Linked DNA regions of Homo sapiens. The protein of the gene in region 1 purifies or fractionates together with the protein of each later gene. This does not show direct contact. Each region holds a gene or a part of one and is shown in the gene's direction. Other genes may lie near its edges.

What was found. Proteins that work in one complex are often made in the same cells at the same time.
Region 2: the proteins of BPGM (region 1) and FLYWCH2 purify together in Homo sapiens (affinity purification with mass spectrometry; 3 studies listed by BioGRID and IntAct, with this or other methods). This does not show direct contact.
Region 3: the proteins of BPGM (region 1) and KLF16 purify together in Homo sapiens (affinity purification with mass spectrometry; 3 studies listed by BioGRID and IntAct, with this or other methods). This does not show direct contact.

The regions. Positions count from the first base shown.
Region 1 is NC_000007.14:134,656,836-134,663,857, forward strand, and holds part of BPGM (bisphosphoglycerate mutase), read left to right. Parts: intron 1-1,258; exon of another isoform or gene 1,259-1,875; intron 1,876-3,829; exon of another isoform or gene 3,830-3,925; intron 3,926-4,219; exon of another isoform or gene 4,220-4,300; intron 4,301-4,611; 5' UTR 4,612-4,672; coding exon 4,673-5,273; intron 5,274-7,022. UniProt on the Homo sapiens protein: Plays a major role in regulating hemoglobin oxygen affinity by controlling the levels of its allosteric effector 2,3-bisphosphoglycerate (2,3-BPG). Also exhibits mutase (EC 5.4.2.11) activity.
Region 2 is NC_000016.10:2,879,177-2,886,219, forward strand, and holds the start of FLYWCH2 (FLYWCH family member 2), read left to right. Parts: upstream 1-4,038; 5' UTR 4,039-4,190; intron 4,191-7,043.
Region 3 is NC_000019.10:1,860,575-1,867,659, reverse strand, and holds the start of KLF16 (Krueppel-like factor 16), read left to right. Parts: upstream 1-4,080; 5' UTR 4,081-4,162; coding exon 4,163-4,619; intron 4,620-7,085. UniProt on the Homo sapiens protein: Transcription factor that binds GC and GT boxes and displaces Sp1 and Sp3 from these sequences. Modulates dopaminergic transmission in the brain.

The DNA.
Region 1 (7,022 bases):
AAGTCTTAGCTCATTTCAGCATCAACCCAAAAGTCCAAATCCAAAGTCTCATCTGAGACGAGGCAAGCCCTCTCTGCCTATGAGCCTAGAAAATTGAAAGCAAGTTAGTTACTTCCTAGATACAGTGGGGCTACAGGCATTGGGTAAATATACCTGTTCCAAATGGGAGAAATTGGCCAAAACAAAGGGGCTACAGCAGGCCCCATGCAAGTCCAAAATCCAATAGAGCAGTTGTTACACCTTAAAGTTCCAAAATGATCTCCTTTGACTCCATGTCTGAATGATAGCTTTTGGACCTATAGGATTCATGTGGCTTGTAGAAAATTTAAAACTTCATTGTGCCTCGCATTATATCTTGATTGGACACAACTGATCTAAAGGATGACTAGAGCTTAACCTAAAGCAGGGTGAGACTGAAGTGGCAATGGAGAGAAGAGATGAAGGGTGAGTGTTCTGCATAGGGTACAGTGTGTGCAAAACTACTGAGGCAAGAAAGAACCTGACATGCTCAAGGAAATAAAACGAAAGCCTTGCAGGTCACATGAAGGATTCTGAACATTTTCTAAGACCAGTAGGAAGAATTGAGGTTTTAAAATAAGATACTCAATTTTCAAGGAGTTTAATTGTTAGTTTGCAGTTAATAAATGAGGGCAAGAGAACTTCAACTGAATATAGCAAGACTTTCAACATTGAAGCTCCCCAACTCCCTAGGATGGTGGGGGAGGGGCGATTTGGTCAGTGGAGGAAGCAGGACGCTGCCCATCACCTGAACCTAACCCTAGGGTATGAGGCATGAGCACCCCCCACTAGAGAGAGAAGCAGTGTCACCTGGGAAGAGGTCGTTTTCAGTTCAGATCTTTTTCAGTGCAATTGACACTCAAAGCTGAGTGGGAGTTTGAGGACAGAGCTAGGAATTCTGCAGGGCACCAGCAAATGGTTTGGTGAGGGAGGGCTGTAAAGGTGGGTCAGGGAGAAGGAAGCCCAGAGCATTATGGGGATTAGAGGGTCTGTCCTTTGAAAGGCTGTGTTGGGCAATAACAGGAAAGCTGGTTAAGTGGTCCAGACGCTTGGGTTCTGACCGTCTCCTGGGGTATAGTGGCTGTACCATTTATCTGTGGCCTAGGGGAGGTTTCCCTTTAAGTCAGAGGTCATAAGCTAGCAGCCACGATCTAGCCTGCAGAAGAAATGTTTTGTTTCACTCACATTTTACAAATATACATTAGTTGCTAATATTTAAATCAGATATCAGATAAAAATACACGTTTTCATTTTTTTTTTAATTGGAAGATCTAGAAACCTCAGTTGCTCAGTATCACAGGGCAATGGGCTGGAGCTAAGTAGTAGGTACTCCTTTGATTTTTTACATGAATTTTTAGGAGGTTTTGAAATGATTGTTTTAGCTTTTTTAAAAAAGACATTTATTTACTCAAAGTTTCTCTGTGGTCTGACTCTAAGTCTTGCATTCATCCTAGTCTTCGATGTCAGCAATCCCATCTTCTTTTTGTTTTCCAGAAAAGTTCTAAGAACAGTGCTGTTGGCTCAGTGAGATGAGGTTATCGGAAAACTTTCTGTTTACACAAGAGTTGCCTCCTTCAAAGAAGCATGCATGGTCCTTGCAGGTCACTGTGCCCATCACTCTGCATAGTCCAGCTGCACTCTGCTTCACACAGCTGCCTGCCCATTGCAGGCATTTGAGTTTGCAATCCATGCCTTAAACTTTAAATCACACTGGCTACAGCGTTGTGTGTTTCTTGGTAAACACTGGGTAAATCAGCTCCTGTGGATGTTGACTGAAGTTTCTATGTTTGCAAGCTAATCCTCAGCAGTTTCTTTGTAAGTATCCAGCAGTTAAGTGGGAAAAGTCCGTTGATAGTACTAGGGAGGAGAGAGGAAAGTGACCTTTTGTTTTCTTGAGATAGACATACTAGTTTAGTACTTTATCATGTATTCACCTGCGTAAATGTATTCCTGTGCTTCAGAGTGAGGGAAGGATGCATATTTGCATAGTTTTTGTGACTGCAGTACTGTTCCTCTGTTCTGGTGTGTGTGTGTGTGTATTTTTTTTTTAGTAAAAAGAAAACAGAACTTTGTTTTAATGCAGTAAGCAAATATAGGAGAATAAGATACCACAAAGCTTGGTGGTGGGTGCCTGAGTGTCCATGTTGCTATTACTACATTGTTTTGTCCCCTTGATATAGTTTATAATCAAAAGATGGTGGAAAGGTGCTTCTGTCTACAAAATTTGTCTAACCATGCCCTTCTTTAACTGAAGAGAGAATGGCTTCATTAGCTTATGGAGGTTTCTCACTTGACAAGATAAACTGAGGGTGAAGGTAGAGGAACAGTTGATAGCTTCTTTTTTCTCCATCCCCCTCCTCCACTACCAATAACAAAACAAAATGATCAATGGTTACAAAGGGTAGATACAGTTTTTGATGGAGCTGAGGCTTCTACTACTTGGTGGATTGGGGCTTTGTAAAGAAACACTGCAAAAATATCTTCCATTTGCAAATTAACACACTTACACACACCCCTCCGTGTGTGTGTGTGTGTGTGTGTGTGTGTGTGTGTGTGTGTTCATCACCTGGTTTCTCACAGGTGAGGGGCTCTGAAGCTTGAACTTTGTTAGATTCATGACTATTCTGCCCCTGGGCACAGGCAGTCATCTGGCAAAACACTGCCTAGATACCTTTTGTTCCCTTCTCTGTTCTGCCACCCTGATGCCTCTTCTAGGCTAAGGACAGAGACATTGGGCTTCCTCCTTGGGAATTCTCAGCTCTGTGGGATGCTTTAATCTGGGTCCTGAGCCCAGGCTCTTCTGGTTCCCTGGCACTTCCCTGCTGCACATGCACAGCAACCTGGTACTTAACAAGAAAGGAAAATCATCATCCTAACTGCTGTAGCCTTTCAACTTCAGTCATGCACCACCTAATGATGTTTCAGTCAAGCATGGATCGTGTAAATGATGGTGGCCCTGTAAGATGGTAATGGAGCATATATAGACATCTGATATGTGGCACTTGACATTGGCATTGCAGATCGAGTAGGGGAAATGACTGATATTCAGTAATTGTGCTGGGATACTTGGCTTTCCATATGAAAAAACATAAGTAACAATATGTATACCATCTAGGTTTGTGTAAGTACATTCTATGTTGTTTGCACGACAAAATCACCTAATGATGCATTTGCCAGGACATATTCCCTTCATTAAGCAACACATGACGATACTTGCAAATCACCTCAATTTGATTTCTTTCCTTAAGTCCTCTGTTTGCCTTCCATTGAAATATAAAGCCTTATTTTAAAGACTGTTTTCCCTTCAGAATCTCTAGGAATTACTAAAGAAAGGTAGAAACTAGATCTAGATTCCAATCAATTTTGCCATTGATTGTTATTTTACTGTGGGTGACTCACAGTTTAAGTGGGAGAGAAAATCTCCAGTTAATGGAAGTTGCCAAGAGTGGCAGAAGACCAGGCTGTAGTGCTCGTATAATCTTTACAACCCAGTGTGCAAAACACTGGAGGAGAGATGGAGAGGCCGGGCGTGTAAACCAAGCATGTGTCAGTGCAGATGTGTCCACCACAAGGAGAGAGAGAGGCGGGCTGAGCAGCCATGTCAGCAGATTCTCCGAGGATGGAGTGGGCCCAGCAGATCTTCAGGCCAGCAGCTTAAATGTAAGGAGTTCAGCATAGCTTGAGAGTTGCTGGTCTCCCTTTACTAGATTCTCCCCCTGCTAAGACGTAGCTGGTGTGTGTAGGATATCTGGAGGGCTGGGGAGGAGGAGGTGGGGCCTCTTTATCAGTGTGGTTCCTCTCACTCCTGCCTACCAGATCTGTTTGTACAGGCAGCATCCCTCAGCTGCTTGCATTTGATAGCTTATTTTGCATCTGGATTTATTCCTGCTGAAAACTCTATCTTGAGGTAGGTGCAAGATTATTTAGGTACGTACCATATTTGGTGTTAATGTCTCTTTAAAGCACTTTTAATTTGTCTGAATGTTGAACTGATGTGTTTTGCATACCTTAGATTTTCTTGTGTGTTGTAGCCTGTGGCATTGAAGAGCTAGTTGCCACCAGCCAGTGATACATATCAGATATATGCAGTGGTGCATTGAAATAACATGTTTAATAACTTCTATAATAAGAATGTGAGACTGGTAAATACTTCTTTTTCCACCACAGGAAAACAAAGTGAAAAGGATGCCTTCAGTGTAGAGTCAGCTGCTGGGAGCTGGGAGTTCCCAGCCACTAGTCATTCTTTCAGACGTCTGTAACTCATTCTATTAAATCCTTTCTACTGTAAGCATAAATTGCCTTTGTATCTGGCAGAAACACAGCATGCCATTAGAATGAAGTGTTTTGTTATTTTATGTCATGCAATTAACATGCTATCCAAACATCAGAAAATTTAAGTCAACTAGATTCCCTGTAATGAATTATTAATATCTATAGAATATGCCTGTATGTGTCACAGTGTATGAGTTATCACATTTCTGACTGTTCAAAGGGATTTCAGTTTCTTTTAGAAATTGGGTGTTGTAAAGCGATGTTTCTATTCCTAGATTGTCAGTTGAATATAACTTAGACTTGTTGTTCTTGTCTTTCTAGATGTATTGCTGTCCTTGAATATTAGCCCATTTGAAAACGCCTGGGAAGTTCAGCCATCAGTATGTCCAAGTACAAACTTATTATGTTAAGACATGGAGAGGGTGCTTGGAATAAGGAGAACCGTTTTTGTAGCTGGGTGGATCAGAAACTCAACAGCGAAGGAATGGAGGAAGCTCGGAACTGTGGGAAGCAACTCAAAGCGTTAAACTTTGAGTTTGATCTTGTATTCACATCTGTCCTTAATCGGTCCATTCACACAGCCTGGCTGATCCTGGAAGAGCTAGGCCAGGAATGGGTGCCTGTGGAAAGCTCCTGGCGTCTAAATGAGCGTCACTATGGGGCCTTGATCGGTCTCAACAGGGAGCAGATGGCTTTGAATCATGGTGAAGAACAAGTGAGGCTCTGGAGAAGAAGCTACAATGTAACCCCGCCTCCCATTGAGGAGTCTCATCCTTACTACCAAGAAATCTACAACGACCGGAGGTATAAAGTATGCGATGTGCCCTTGGATCAACTGCCACGGTCGGAAAGCTTAAAGGATGTTCTGGAGAGACTCCTTCCCTATTGGAATGAAAGGATTGCTCCCGAAGTATTACGTGGCAAAACCATTCTGATATCTGCTCATGGAAATAGCAGTAGGGCACTCCTAAAACACCTGGAAGGTACCAGCTTTATATACCACTTATTAGAGGTTGCCAAGTGTGATATCTAGGCCTTAATCTAGAAATTAAGCTAATGAGGCCCTATTTACACAATAGACTCCTCTATCCCCCTTTGTCACTTCAGATTTAAGAATTGTCTTGTTCTATAAATCAGATCTCTTGTGTGTTTTCTGTTCCTGTTACCCGAAGCAGCAGTTTTCAGACTTTAGCAAGCATCAGAGTCACCTGGAGAGGTTGGTGTATCACAGATTGTGGGTCCCACCCTCAGAGTTTCGGAATCAGTAGGTCTGGGGCGCACCCTGAGAATCTGCATTTCTTAGAAGTTTTAGGTGATGCTGATACTGCTGATTGGGGTTCCACACTTTGAGAAGCACTAGTCTAAAGGACTGTATGGCTTGTTGTAGTGAAATGAAAGGAAGCTAGGAAAGGAAGGAATTGTTGAAATGGCCTTGAAAGTAAATTAGAGTTTTTCAAGTCAAGTAAATTATCTAGACTTCAGTTTTGCTCACGTTCTTCCAACTTTAAACAATGATTGCTGTTCCTAGACGTAGGTTTCCTGAGCAGTTCTTTTGTTTCAAACTTCTTTTCAGAACAGGCTTAGTCATTGACTGGAAGAAAGTTAGGGGGAAGGAAACTAAAAGGATAGTTGGTTTATTTATCTTGACTCTAAAAATTTGGAAATCAGCAGCAGCCATAATTTTAACTACTTTATGTCATGTTCTACATGTATACTAAAACATACTGTATTGTTACCTTTTTAAGTAACATGAACCAAATGAACTCTTGAGGATTCAGGTTCACCGGTTTTGAGCATCAGTGATTGCACTGTGACACCTTCTGGATTTCTCACTGTTCTGTGGATTTCTCGTTTCCCTCTCTGCCTCCACTCATCCCAGATGGTTGTGCTTTTTGCGTGATATGCCCTGTCTGGTGTTTTCCTGCCTTTCATCACTGTCAGCAGTTAGCTTACTGGTAATAAATAGAAGAAATTTCTCCACCATTCGTTTTCATTCTGCTTTAATTTTCTATAAGAGGCTGTGACAAATAAAAAGGCTGACCTTGTATGTGAAATAAGTAGAAATAGATTATTAGTTAAAAATGAAGTAATCTTTAGCATGTGATTATTTTCCCCTAATTTTTATAACATGACCAAGAACTAAATCATTACTTGTATAGCTGACATCCATTAGTCATGCAGAGACCTAAAATCTACAGACTATTAGATACTAAAATTTTATTGGCTAGACATGGCACTTGATATGTGTGTGTGTGTGTGTTTGTGTGTGTGCACGTGCGCATGTGCGTGGGCACATGTGTATCTTATTTACTCAACTATATAAAAGGTTCTATTCTTGTTCAGAATAATTAGATCTTTAACTTCATTATTAGTGATATATAACTTCATCATTAATGGACCATAGTATTTTATTGTTTGAAGAAGAGTTGAGGCTTCTACTAGACAACAACAAACTGAAATTCAGAATTTCAGAGTTTCTGCCAGAGGTGTATTCTATTCAACCGTGCCAACTCCTTTTTCAGAGCTGGGTCTCAGATTTATTGTGGCCAGGCTCCCTTCTCTCAAGAAAACACCACTATCTCCTTTAGGATCATCTTTCTCCACCTTCTTAGCTTGGAAGTCCCCCTTTTAAAAAAGTTTCCTACTGTTTAATACCATTGACTCTTCACCTATCTTCAAATTTATTATAGATCTCTTTAAAACGATTCTACAGCCCAACCACAGCTCATTGT
Region 2 (7,043 bases), on another chromosome or scaffold:
ATTTTTTTGTATTTCTAGTAGAGATGGGGTTTCACCATGTTGGCCAGGCTAGTCTCGAACTCCTGACCTCATGATCTGCCTGCTTCAGCCTCACAAACTGCTGGGATTACAGGCGTGAGCCACTGCACCCAGCCGTCTTGTTTTTTTTCCTCACTCTGTTGCCCAGGCTGGAGTGCAGTGGCATTGTTTTGTCTCACTGCAACCTCTGCCTCCCGGGTTCAAGCCTCCCACGTAGCTGGGATTACAGTCGCCCACGACGACCACACCCTGCTAATTTTTGTATTTTTAGTAGAGACTGGGTTTCACCATGTTGGCCAGGCTGGTCTCAAACTCCTGACCTCAGGTGATCCACCTGCCTTGGCCTCTCAAAGTGGTGGGATTACAGGCATGAGCCACTGCACCCAGCCTAAATTTCTATATAGTAAATATTGATAGATGTAACCCACATAACTAAAATCTCTCTGAGCGTCTCAATAACTAACAGTGAAAATGATGGCGGCAGGAGGCAGACAAATCCCCAGGCAGACAGAGACAGATCCCATCCCTGGTGAAACTGGCCTTCAAACCAAAGACATTTTAAAGCCTGAAAACCAAGCTACAAGTCTCTGATAAATTCATGGAACATACTGAGAACCTCTCTTCCCGTGTGGCCCACTTTCCTCTGACTGATCCCCACATTTCACCTATTTTACATACACCTACCCTTCCCTAACTGGTTGTTTACACTGTCATGCCCAATTTTGAGTGCCTTTTAAGCCTTTTTTGCATACTCAGAAACCAATCAGCATGCACTCCCCCATTCTGAGCCAATAAAAACCTCAGACTCAGCCACACTTGGGGTCTACACACCATGGCGGGGGGAACTACCCGACTTTGAGAGGGTCCCCTCTTCGCTGAGAGCTGTTTGTTAGCTCAATAAAACTCTTCACCCTGCTCACCCACTGGCTGTCAGCATAACCTCATTCTTCTTGGATGTGGGACAAGAACTCTGGAGGGTCTACCACTGGTAGGAAAAAGGCTGTAACACTGTAGCCCTCCACCCACCCCCAGAACCTGCCCAGGCAAGAGGAAATAGCAGTGGGCTGGGCCAGCCCTGAAGCTGAGGACCCAAGGGGGGCAGCGGGATTGAAAGAGCTGTAACATGACACAAATGGCGGAATGGGTGGGGTGTCTCCTGCACCGAGCCCAGGCCAAGGGAGGCCTGAACAGGGGTGCTGCTGGCCATGGAGGTCTCTGGCTGACTAAGGGGCACTGAAAAATCCTGTGTCATAAGTGGTTCTGAGACCAGAAAGTTTGAGAATTGCTGGACTAAGGAATATAAATTTTAAAACCAAGACTCACCAGGCACGGTGGCTCATGCCTGTAATCCCAACACTTTGGGAGGCCGAGATGGGTGGATCACAAGGTCAGGTGTTCAAGACCAGCCTGGACAACATAGTGAAACCCCGTCTCTGCTAAAAACACAAAAAAAATTAGCCGGGCTTAGTGGCGGGCACCTGTAATCCCAGCTACTTGGGAGGCTGAGGCAGGAGAATCACTTGAACCCAGGAGGTGGAGGTTGCAGTCAGCCGAGATCACACCACTGCACCCCAGCCTGGGCAACAAGAGTGAAACTCTGTTTCAAACAAAAACAAAAAGAAACAGAAAACAACCAAGACTCTTATCAGTCCACATGACAATACTCTGTGAATTCTCACAATGGCTGTAGGAGGTGGGTGCGTTATCACCCCCATTTATCAGGTGAAGACACTGAGGCACAGAGAGGGGATGTAATTGCTCATTCACACAGCTGGCAATTGACACAGCAGGGACTTGAACCCAAGCATCTAACCCCAAGCTTGTGCACTTCCTTGGGGACAATTTGGCTACATGTTTAAAAAGCTTTTAAAAATATTTGCCTCCTTTGACCTCTTTTAAGACTTTCAAGAAATCTTTGGCTGGGTGCGGTGGCTCACACCTGTAATCCCAGCACTTTGGGAGGCTGAGGCGGGTGGATCACGAGGTCAGGAGTTCAAGACCAGCCTGGCCAAGATGGTGAAACTCCGTCTCTACTAAAAATACAAAAAAATTAGCTGGGTGCGGTGGCAGGCGCCTGTAATCTCAGCTACTTGGGAGGCTGAGGCAGGAGAACCACTTGAACCCAGGAGGCGGAGGTTGCAGTGAGCTGAGATCGTGCTACTGCACTCCGGTCTTGCCAACAGAGTGAGACTCTGTCTCAAAAAAAAAAAATCTTTAATATCTCGACAGGCAAGGTGGCTCACATGTCTAATCCCAGCACTTTTGGAGGCCGAGGTGGGCAGATCACCGGAGGTAACTCCGGTTTGATACCAGCCTGGCCAACATGGTGAAATCCCATCTCTACAAAAATATAAAAATTAAGCATGATTACCGGTGCCTGTAATCTCAGCTACTTGGGAGGCTGAGGCGGGAAAATCGCTTGAACCCGGGAGGCGGAGGTTGCAATAAGCAGAGATCACGCCACTGCACTCCAGCCTGGGCGACAGAGCGAGACTCCATCTCAAAAAAAAAAAAAAAAAATCTTTGACATCAGAGATTCATATACAAAGATATTTATAACATCATCAAGTTAAAAACAACCAGTAGTCTGTGAATGATTAATAGATAACAGCAAATAAATGCACAAAGGTAGCTGGGCACGGTGGCTCACTCTTGTAATCCCAGCACTTTAGGAAGCCGAGGCGGGTGGATCACCTGAGGTCAGAAGTTCAATACCAGCCTGGCCAACATGGTGAAACCCGTCTCTACTAAAAGTACAAAAATTAGCCGGGCGTGGTGGCGGGCGCCCGTAATCCCGGCTACTCAGTAGGCTGAGGCATGAGAATTGCTTGAACCCGGGAGGCAGAGGTTGCAGCGAGCCGAGATCACGCCACTGCACTCCAGCCTGAGCGACAGAGCGCAATTCTCGTTTCTAAAAAAAAAAAAAAAGCACAAAGGCCTTGAATGACACCAGACAATGCCCGGGGAGATAGGATAGTGGGATGGGGGCAGCGGGAGCCTTGGTAGCGGAGTCCACGGTGGGATTCAGAGACCTGCAGAGCCAGGGCCGGGAGGGGCAGGGCAGAGGAAGGGCGTGCAGCGACGCTGGCATTCGGACGTGAGAAGGCGGAAGGTGCGGGAGGCCCCAGAGGATCTCGACCTGGACCCTGGAGCCCTGGGGCGGTGGCACATTCAGCGGCCGCTTTAGAGCGAGGGGGGCGGGGCGCGGAGCCAGGCTTAGGGGGACCAAGGTGGCCGGGGTAGTGGGGGCGACCCCGCGGGGCTGGGAGAGCCGCGGTGAGCCTAGGGGGCTGTGCGGGGGCCGCTCTGGACGCTGCAGCCAAGTGTCCCAGGAAAGCAGCGCCCAGGGCCCCACAGCTCCCTGTGCCCGGACCCAGCCCAGTCCCACTGCAGTGGGTGGCTGGAGGATGGCGAGTGTCCCGGGCACCCCTTGGGCCGGGTGAACGTGGTTGGGCACGGAGAGGGCGGGGCCCGTGGGCACGGGTGGGCCCAATGGGCCAGGGCTGGACCAATAACGAGAAAGGATGAATGGACAGGGGCTGAACTACAGAGAGAGGGCGGGACTATTGGGCGAGGGCTGGACCAATGGGCAGGGGCTAAACTAATAGACGAGGGCTGGACCAATGGCGCGGATGAGGCTGCTGCGTCGTCAAGGATGCAGAGCTTAAAGCAAGGCAGTGGCTTCCATGAGCCTAAACACCTTCCCTCCGCACGCTCGGTATCGCGACGGGGGAGAGCAAAACCTTTAAACAAATGCTCCAGTTTTCCCCGCAGAGAGCCGGAGTCAAATCCGTGAGGAAGCCCGGGGGTCGCAGTGAAGCCCAACCCACTGGTGCTGGGATAACCTCGCCCGCAACCCGGATCCAGGCCGCAGGTCCCCCGAGGCTCCGCCCCTGACGGCGACACTCAATCCCGGGTGTCCCCGCCCCCTTACTGAATTTTGGCCCCGCCTCCGCCCTCCGATTGGCCGGACGCCAGCTCTACGCCGCACGGGCAAGACGCGGAGGAGCGGCCCCAGCCAGAAGACAGGGCACCCGCGGCCTTGCTGCGCATGCTCGCGCTGTGACCCCGGCTTGAGGTAACAGCGCGAGCTGAGGCTGGGGCCCTTGGCGCGGAGGCTGAGGGACCCGCCGCGGCGCTGTCGCCGGAGAGGGAGGGCACCGCTGTCGTCGGTGAGGACGGGCCCTGGCGGGCGGGGAGGGTCCTGCGTCCTCGGCATGGACGAGTCCCCGGCCCGGCTCTCTCGGGGGTCCCGAGGGCTGCGGGTGCTGAGGAGGGGTCCGCGTCCTGGTGCTCAGGCCGCCTCCTGTGGGGTCTCCCGCGATTCCCTCTTTGCCTCTCGCCCCTCCTTCCCCACCCCCTCCAGTCCCTTGTCCAAAGCCTCAACACCCCCACACGAAGGAGGTCCGCACTCGCCCGCCGGTCCCTGGCCGTGTCCGCCGCGCCCAGCGCTGCCTTCCCGGCACCCCCCAACCCCCGCCGGCCTCGTCCCACGGTTGCAGCTCGGGAGGTCCCTGCAGGGACGGCAGCGAGTTGGAGGCGTGAGATACTGGGGCGGGGGAGACACTCGGGGCCTCAGGGTGTGGGTATTCTTGAGAGAGGAGAGAGCCGGGGAGCTGGGACCATTTGGGCGCAGCCCAGCCCGCGTTTGATGCCAATTGCATTGGGTAAAGGAGTGAAATAAAGATTCTGAGCCCTGGTGATTAGGGGAAGGAGCTGCCATGGCTGAAATTGCCATGGTGGGGAAGCTCCGCGCTGCACACCTTAGAGTAGCAGTTCTTGGCCTTCTTGGGGCAGGGGTCACTGCCGGTTTTTTAAATCTCCCTGTGAGGACGTGTACTGCACACCTTAGTGTCCCGTCATCCTGTCGGGGTCAATAACAGCCCCGCTGTGGACTGCGTGGAGCAGTAATTATTGGGGAGCAGCTGTCCATATCGTCTGGGAACTTTTGCGATGACTTCACCCTTGCCTGTCATCTATTAACAGCCCCTGATAAATTCACCACTATTTCCGTTACGCAGATGAAACCTGCTGGGAGGGTAAGGGATTTGTCCTCGCGGCTGAGGATGCCGGTGCTGGTGGACATTAGTGATGTTTCTCCCCCGTGCGTATGAAGATGATTCTGTGGGTCCACCATGAGGCACCAGGCAGGGGTCCTGTCGTCCAGAACATCGTCAGTGAGGGATTGAACCTTGTATTAGTTTCCTGTTGCTGTCCTAACAAATAAGGTGGCTTAAAGCAACACAGGCCGGGCGCGGTGGTTCACGCCTGTAATCCTAGCACTTTGGGAGGCCGAGGCAGGCAGATCACAAGGTCAGGAGATAGAGACCATTCTGACTAACATGGTGAAACCCCGTCTCTACTAAAAAAAAAAAAAAAAAAATACAAAAATTAGTCGGGGCCGGCGCGGTGGCTCACGCCTGTAATCCCAGCACTTTGGGAGGCCAAGGAGGGTGGATCACCTGAGGTCGGGAGTTCGAGACCAGCCTGACCAACATGGAGAAACCCCGTCTCAACTAAAAATACAAAATTAGCCGGGTGTGGTGGTGCACGCTTGTAATCCCAGCTACTTGGGAGGCTGAGACAGGAGAAAGGCTTGAACCCGGGAGGCAGAGGTTGCAGTGACCCAAGGTCGCGCCACTGCACTCCAGCCTGGCCGACAAGAGCGATACTCCGTCTAAAAAACAAAAACAAAAAAAAAACTCCGGGTGATTCTTAGGGATAGTGACATTGGGGAACTGCTGTTCATATGTTCATAGACTCAATTTACCTTTTTCTGAATATTTAACAACTTTATTGAGATAATTCACATACCGTGCAATTTACCCATTTAAAGTGTACATTTCGGCCGGGCGCGGTGGCTCACGCCTGTTATCCCAGCACTTTGGGAGGCCAAGGAGGGCGGATCACGAGGTCAGGAGATCGAGACCATCCTGGCTAACACGGTGAAACCCCGTCTCTACTAAAAATACAAAAAATTAGCCAGGCGTGGTGGCAGGCGCCTGTAGTCCCAGCTACTCCGGAGGCTGAGGCAGGAGAATGGCGTGAACCCGGGAGGCGGAGCTTGCAGTGAGATCACGCCACTGCACTCCAGCCTGGGCGACAGAGCGAGACTCCGTCTCAAAAAAACAAAACAAAACAAAAAAAAAAATATACAGTTCAGTGGCTTTAGTGTGATCACAAAGTTGTGCAACCCTCATGAAAATTCCTTTTAGGACATTTTCATCACCCCATAAAGCACATACCCACTAGTAGTCAATTCTCATTCTCCCCTTCCCCACCCCAATCCCGAGATAACCACAAATCTACGTTCTGTCTCCATAGATTTTCCTACTCTGTAGATTCTCTAGACTCTAAGTAATTTCATGTAAATGGAATCATATAATATGTGGTCTTTTGGGTCTGGCTTCTTTTACCGAGCATAATTTCTTCAAGGTTCATTCATGTTGTAGCATAGATTTTTTTTACTGCCAAATAATATTCCATTTTATACATGCACCACATTGTACTTATTCATTCATCCATTGATGGATATTTGGGCTGTTTTGAATATCCATCGAAACGTTTTGGCTTTCATGAATAATGCAACTGTAACATTCATGTACACATTTTTATGTGGACATGTGTTTTCCTTTCTTCCAGGCATATAGCTAGTAGTGGAATTGCTGGGTCATAGGGTAACTCTACATTTAACCTTTTGAGGAACTGCCAGGCTGGTTTCCAAAAATGGCTGCACCATTTTACATTCCCCTCAGCAGTGTATGAGGGTTCCAGTTTCTCCTCATCCTCACCAGCACTTGCTATTATCTGTTTTTTGTTTGTTTTATTATGTCCATCCTGGTGGTGTGAAGTGATATCTCATTGTGGTTTTGATTTGCATTTCCCTGGTGACTAATGATGTTGAGCATCTTCTCATATATTAGCCATTTGTATATCTTCTTTAGAGAAAAGCCTGTTTGGAGCCTTTGCCCATTATTATTATTATTGTTATTATTTTTTTTTTTTAGACGGAGTACCACTTTGAT
Region 3 (7,085 bases), on another chromosome or scaffold:
TCCTGACCTCAGGTGATACATCTGCCTTGGCCTCCCAAAGTGCTGAGATTACAGGCATCAGCCACCACACCCAGACAATCTATCACTATTTTTAGAGACAGGATCTCGCTCTGTTGCCCAGGCTGGGGTGTATCACAGCTCTCTGCAGCCTTGACCTCGGGGCCGCAAGCAATCCTCCCGCCTCGGCCTCCCGAAGAGCTGGGACCACAGGCGTGCACTACCATGCCTGGGTAAGTTTTGAATTTGTTTTTTATGCAGACAGGGGTCTCACTATATTGCCCAGGCTGGTCTTGAACTCCTGGGCTCAAGCAGTCCTCCCATCTCAGCCCCCTAAAGTGTTGGGGTTACAGGCGTGAGTCACTGCACCCGGCCCTGCAGCCTTGTTTTTGGCCCTCACCTACCTTGGGGTATCCATGTTGTGGGTGCACCCCCGGTTATGTGACCTCTGCCCTCATCTGTCCTCTGGGAGACTGTGTTCTTTGCCCTCTATGAGGCAAGGCCCCAGTTCCTGGCTCCGTGGCCCCTCTGAGAGTCCCGTTGTGTTCTTCCTGCCCTGCTAGAGACCCACTCCCAGCAACACCTGGGTGCTGTCTGTCCCCTGCTGAGCTTTGCTCCATAGCCCTCAGGCTTGGGAGGTCCATCTTTGGGGCTGGGAGGAGCTGTCCCCCTGATCCTCTTGGGCGCTGTCAGGGAAGGGTAGAGGTGAGCCCCCATTTATAGGTGAGGAACAGGTTTGAAGAAAGAAGGGGCTGAGTTATGGATGCCCCAAAGTGTCTGCTGCCTCTTAGCTGTGAGCAGGAGCCGGCTGTTCTCGGTCCTCTCCCAGTCTTGATTTTTTCATCTGTAGAATGGGAATGACAACTCCTTTTTTTTTTTTTTTTTTTGAGACAGGGTCCCACTCTGTCACCCAGGCTGGAGTGCAGTGGTGCAGTCACAGCTCACTGCAGCCTTGACCTCCTGGGCTCAAGCGACCCTTCCACCTTAGCCTCCTGAGTAGCTGGGACTACAGGTGTGAGGCCACTGCGCCCGCTAATTTTTTTTTTTTTTGAGACAGTTTCTCTCTTGTCACCCAGGCTGGAGTGCAGTGGCACGATCTCGGCTCACTGCAACCTCCGCCTCCTGGGTTCAAGCGATTCTCCTACCCCAGCCTCCTGAGTAGCTGGGATTACAGGCATGCGCCACCAGGCCCGGCTAATTTTTTTTGTATTTTTAGTAGAGACGGGGTTTCTTCATATTGGTCAGGCTGGTCTCGAACTCTCGACCTCAGGTCATCCGCCTGCCTCGGCCTCCCAAAGTGCTGGGATTACAGGCGTGAGCCACCATGACTGGCCTCCAGCTAATTTTTTTTTTTGAGATGGAGTTTTTGCTCTTGTCGCCCAGGTTGAAGTACAATGTTCGATCTCAACTCACTGCAACCTCCACCTCCCAGATTCAAGCGATTCTCCTGCCTCAGCCTTCTGAGTAGCTGGGATTACAGGTGCCCACCACCTGGCCCGGCTAATTTTTTCTTGTATTTTTAGTAGAGACGGGATTTCACCACATTGGCCAGGCTAGTCTCGAACTCCTGACCTCAGGTGATCTGCCAGCCTTGGCCTCCCAAAGTGCTGGGATTACAGGCGTGAGCCACTGCACCCGGCCTGCAGCTCATTTTTTAATGTGGAGAGTTGGGGGTTTCATTACGTTGCCCCGGCTGGTCTTGAACTGATAGCTTCAAGTGATCCTCCTACCCTGGTCTCTCAAAGTGCTGGCATTCCAGGCGTGAGCCACCGCACCCGGTGGAGAATTTACAGGGTCATAGAGAGTAAGGAAGAGAGGACAGAGCCCTGTGCCGGGCGCTGCTGGAGGTTTGTCTGTGTTCACCGCAGGGGTCATGGGTTGCCTGAGTGTTCCTGGGGCTTAGGGGTGTGAATAGAAGCCTCATGGGTGGGGTGTGGGCTGTGTGCCCTCACCTGGGGTCTCCTGCCTGTGGAGTGGCTGGCATGACCTGCAGATGAGGCCACTCACTTGAAACCCTGATAATGGCTGGAGTGGGCAGACAATGGAGTCTCACAGTGAAGGTCCTGCCTGGGGCCATGTGGCCCACCCCTGGAGGCTGCTCACCCCTGCCCCCCATCGTTAGCCTCCCAGTTACAACTGTAAGCCCCTTGAGGGCAGGGCTGGTTGGTTCTGCTCTAAGCCCAGGAAACATCAGTGGAAGACGCATGGTTGGGTGTGGACCCTGAGGCCTCAAGACACACCTGTCCACAAGCCAATGCGGGGTTCCAGGACCCTGGGGGCTGCTGGGATGGTGGGGACCTGGGGGACCTGCCCAAGTGGCCCATCGTCCTAGAAGTTCAAAGACAACAGAGGCCCAGCAGGAGCAGGAACGCCGACCCCCAGCGCCCACCGAATGGTAGGGGTGCAGAGAGGGCTCTGGAGCCCAGGCCTAGGAGAGGGGCAAGTGTGTGCAGGGCACCCTGTACCCTCCCACACTTCGCTGAACCTCCTCTCTCTCGGCTCCGCTCTGTCCAGCCACGTAGAGTGGGCTTACTGGGGCCCAGGGAGGGCTCAGCTGGCTTAACCAAGCATGGTTGAGCCCAGGCGCAGTGCGGGCGACCCAGGGAACAGTGGTCAGCCTCAGGGCGTCAGCTGGGGTTGCAGGTGGGCGGGGGATGGGGCTAGAGAAGCCCCGAATCGGGTCAGGGCCTCTGTCCATGCCCAACCCAGAGCAGGAGGTCGCCGCAGGCCAAAGCAGCTCCGCCCCCTGGAGGCAGCTCCGGCCACTGCGCAGTCCCCGCCGCCCCGCCGGAGCTGGGAAGGGGCGGGAGCGCGGTCGCGACCGAGGGGGGCCGCCCAGTTTCTGTGCCCCCGCCGCCTTGGGCCTGCGAACTGGGCCATCCGCGTCCCTGGTGTCCCCCCTAATATTTAACAAGTTGGCCTGGACGTCCTCGCGGCCGGGAGGCCCGAATACCTGGCCTCAGTTTTCCCGTCCGAACCCCAAGAATCGATGCCTGGGAATGGAAAGAGAAGCCCCGGACCCCGGTGTCCCAGCAGGGCGGGGAACCTCTGACCCGCTCAGGCGCCCCCAGCCCAGCCCAGCCCTTTGCGTTCGGCCCCCTCTTCCCGTCCCCCTATCCCGACCCTCTGGGACCCAACCGGCCCTCCCCACCCCCAGTGGGGCGCGCTCTAGTAGCTCCGGAACTGGGTGCAAAAAGAGGAACGAACGCAGCCTTGCCCCACCCTCCCGGGCCCCGCCGCGGGCGCGGGATACCGGGTGTCTCGGCCGGGAGGCTCCGAGGGGCTCTGTGAGCGGCGAGGGGGAACCCCAGAGAAGAGGACGAGCAGATGCCTGAGTGCGGGGTCAAAGCAGGGCCCCAGGCCGGGAGAAGAGGGGGGAAGGGTCGCGCACGTGGCCTGGGGGCGGGGCCGGCCGCTTCCGCACCCCTCCAACCCCGGCCACGTGGGGATCGGAGCCCTCCTCCATCGCGAACGGGGGCGCGCCCGGGGCCAGGAGGGAAGCATCCGGGGAGGGGGCGGGCTCCCGCCGGCCGCGCGCCCCGGCGTGGGGTGGGCGCGCCAGCGAGGAGGCGGGGCGCGCTCTGGGAGGGAGGGGCGTGCCGGGATGGGGCGGGGCGCGCTCTCGGAAGGAGGGGCGTGCCGGAGAGGGGGCGGGGTCCTCGGCCTCCCGCCCCGGCTTGAGGGGGTGGTGCTCCGGGAAAGGGTACGGGGGCGCGCGCTGGAGTGGGGCGCGCCGGGAGGGGGCGGGGCTCCCGGCCTTGCACCCTAGCGCGGAGAAGGCGCGCTCCGGGCCTAAGACGCTAGGCGCTGGCGGAGGCCGGAGTGGGCGCGCCGGGGGGCGGGTTCCTCCGGCCCGAGCCCCGCCCCCGGCGGCCGCGCGCGGCTCGGAGAGTGGTGGAGGGCGCGCCGGGCGGGGGGCGTGGCTGCGGCGCCCCGAGGGGGCGTCCTCCGGGCGGGGCGGGCTGTGGCCGCCCCCGCGGGCTCCGGTGCGTCAGGACGCGTCAGGCGGGGCGGGGCAGGCCGAGCGCGGGCGTCGGCGGCGGCGCGCGCCGGGCCTCCTCCTCCTCCTCCTCCGCCTCCCGCACTCGAGCAGCCGCCGCCGGCCGGACGGACGCCGCTCCCGCCGCCTCCGCTCCGCCCGCCGCGCCGCGCGCCCTTGCTCGGCATGTCGGCGGCCGTGGCGTGCGTGGATTACTTCGCCGCCGACGTGCTCATGGCCATCTCTTCGGGCGCCGTGGTGCACCGCGGGCGGCCCGGCCCCGAGGGCGCGGGCCCCGCCGCCGGCCTGGATGTGCGCGCGGCGCGCCGCGAGGCCGCCTCACCCGGGACCCCGGGGCCACCCCCGCCGCCCCCCGCCGCTTCTGGCCCGGGCCCCGGCGCCGCCGCGGCGCCCCACCTGCTGGCCGCCAGCATCCTGGCCGACCTGCGCGGCGGACCCGGAGCCGCCCCGGGGGGCGCCTCGCCCGCCTCCTCCTCCTCAGCCGCCTCGTCCCCGTCCTCGGGCCGCGCCCCCGGCGCCGCGCCCTCCGCCGCCGCCAAGAGCCACCGCTGTCCCTTCCCGGACTGCGCCAAAGCCTACTACAAGTCCTCGCACCTAAAGTCGCACCTGCGGACGCACACAGGTGAGTGCAGCCGCGATCCCGGCCCTTGCGGGGGCGGCCGCCTGAGACCCCTCCCCCGCCAGGACCCCGAAACTGCGTGGCGCGTGGGGGGCGGGGAGGGGGGCGCGCCCGGGCCGCCGCCGCGCCGGCCGGCAGGGCGGGGCCTCGGTGGGTGGGGCGCGCGCGGGGGGCGTGGCGGCCACGCGGTCGGGCGGCGAGCGGATGGCCGCCCCGGCGGCAGTGGCGGGGGCTCCGGGGGCCCAGCGAGGTCTGCGGGCGGGATTGAGACTCCTGGGCAGACCACCTCTCTCCCTTTCTGGGCCTTGTTCCGTTTTTTTTTTTTTCTTTTGCGTTCTGGTCTGGGCGGTGGGCACCGTGGTTGGAGCATCCGGCTCTGGGGTTCTGGGTTCTCCCCCTCCCCCAGCCTCAGTTTCCTTATCTGTGAAAATGGAGGAGGAACCGCGTCGCCGCCGCCGGGGTGGCCGCGCGGATTCTCCCCAGAGGTCGGCAGAGCACCTGGCGTGGGGCCAGGATGGGGGGAGCCCGGCACGTTTTCTCTGCGTTCTCTGTATTTTAACGAGGGGGAGGGCGAGGCTAGGAGCGCGGGTTGGGGCCTGAGTCTGGGCGGGGGAACTTCATAGTATTGGAGGACCCTCGAGGGGCTCGGGTCCACACTGCTGTATTTCCCTGGCGTGTTTGTTCACCCCTACCTGGCGGGCGATTCGGGAAGGTGCGCGTAGTTGGAGCGCTTCGGCTACACCAACGCCCCTCCTAGCGCAGTCCCCGGGGCGGCGAGGGGAACCGGGAGCCTGGTGGGCCTGGCTGTATTTTTTCACTCCGTCCCCTCCTAGGGTTCCACTTTCTGGACTGGGAGTTTGGACTGGGCAACAGGGGACGGTGGGCCTTGATGGCCGGCCCTGGTTTGGGCATTAGAGGTGCTTGTCCCTTCCGGGGAGGGTGGGGGGCTGGGGGAAAGCTGTGCGGCTGCCCTTGGGCTTGGCATTCTGGCCTTGCCACCAAACAGAAGACCTCTACCCGATCTGGGTCTCAATTTTCTCATTTCTATCAAGAGTGCGATGCTGCCTCTATTTCATAGCCATAGCGGTGGCCGCTTTGGGCAGCTGGACACTCCAAGGAGGCTTGGTCCGTGGGCTCGGATTGTAGGGACACGTGGAGCAGCCGAAGGGAAGTGGGCCGTCCAGAGTGGTGGGGCTGAGATGAGCAGGGGCCGCGAATGCCTTGCGGAAGAATTGAGGGTCCATCTTTGGGGTATGGGGAGCCGCGCTGGGACGCCTGAGGGTGGAGAGCAGGAGGGCGGGTGGGGGCGGTGGTGTGTAGCCTGCCGGCCGCCCCCTCTCTGTTCTGCACTCTTTTCACCCCTCGCTCAGTCCCTGTCCTGGTCCCAGGGGCCTGGAGGCTCTGCCCACCTTGAGACACAGACGGGAACCGAGGGCGTCAAGACAGGACTTGGGTGGGGTCTGCGTTTTCTGCGAGGAGCCACACATCCTCGGCGGAGGGGTCCCAGGGTGTTACCTCTTTTTGAGGGCAATGGGGTCCGTGTATCTCCGCGGGGAGGGACATTGGGGGTCTGTGAAGATGGCGAGGCAGCGTTGGGAACAGAAAGGGAGGTGCCTCTCCGGGCGGTGGGCAGGGGTCCAGGAGTGCCCTGGCTTTTTGGGGGTAAGTTGGGCGATCTGAACAGACGGGGCTGAAGTGGGAGCCTGTTGGGAAAGCGACTCCCACCTGTCTACCCAGGTCATTCTTTTCTTGCCAGATGGCGTGGCCTGAGAGCTCCATTTGGGTTTTCTGAGTTTCTGGGTTAAGTGGACGGGATGGCCACCTCCCTGAGTGGCACCCAAGAGGCGCTTCCATAGGCCCCCGGGTATTGGGGCAGCGGTCCCTAAGCCAGCAGGGAGGGGAGGGATGGGTTTGGAGTCCTGGGAAGGCAGTATTGTTATCCCGGGATTGCAGTAAGAAACAGGCCTGGGGGTGCCCAGTCGGGCATCCCCAGGGGTGGATGCAGTTGTGCTGATGGCGCGCCACCGTCTACCCTGTGTGGTGGGGGAGGGCAGGGCGGATCTCCTGGCACCCTCCCCCACCCCTTGAGCCTGCTGACGTCCCATTCCAAAGCCCCCTTTACAGTAACGATTTGGGGACTGGGAGGGCAGTCCCAGGCCCAGGCACCTTGGATTCGGTTTCCAAAGGGTTTTGGATACTTGTGGCTTTCCAGGCTCCTCTTCCGGGCCTCCCCAGCCCCCAGGACCACCAAGGGGTCTGTGTAAACGGCCTCTTTTAGTGGAAGGTGGTCTGGTTTTTCAGCCCCCGGAGGAGGGAGGGAATGGCTGCCGTTAAGCTGGTTTTGGGGGACAGGAAGGCCATGCGTTTTTTTGGGAGGGAGCCCCATTGCAGGGCTGTCCCTGAATGGAGTGGAGGCCGGGAAAGATCCGCAGACGAACCCGAGTCACCGGTGGCTGCAGGGCTGTCCCG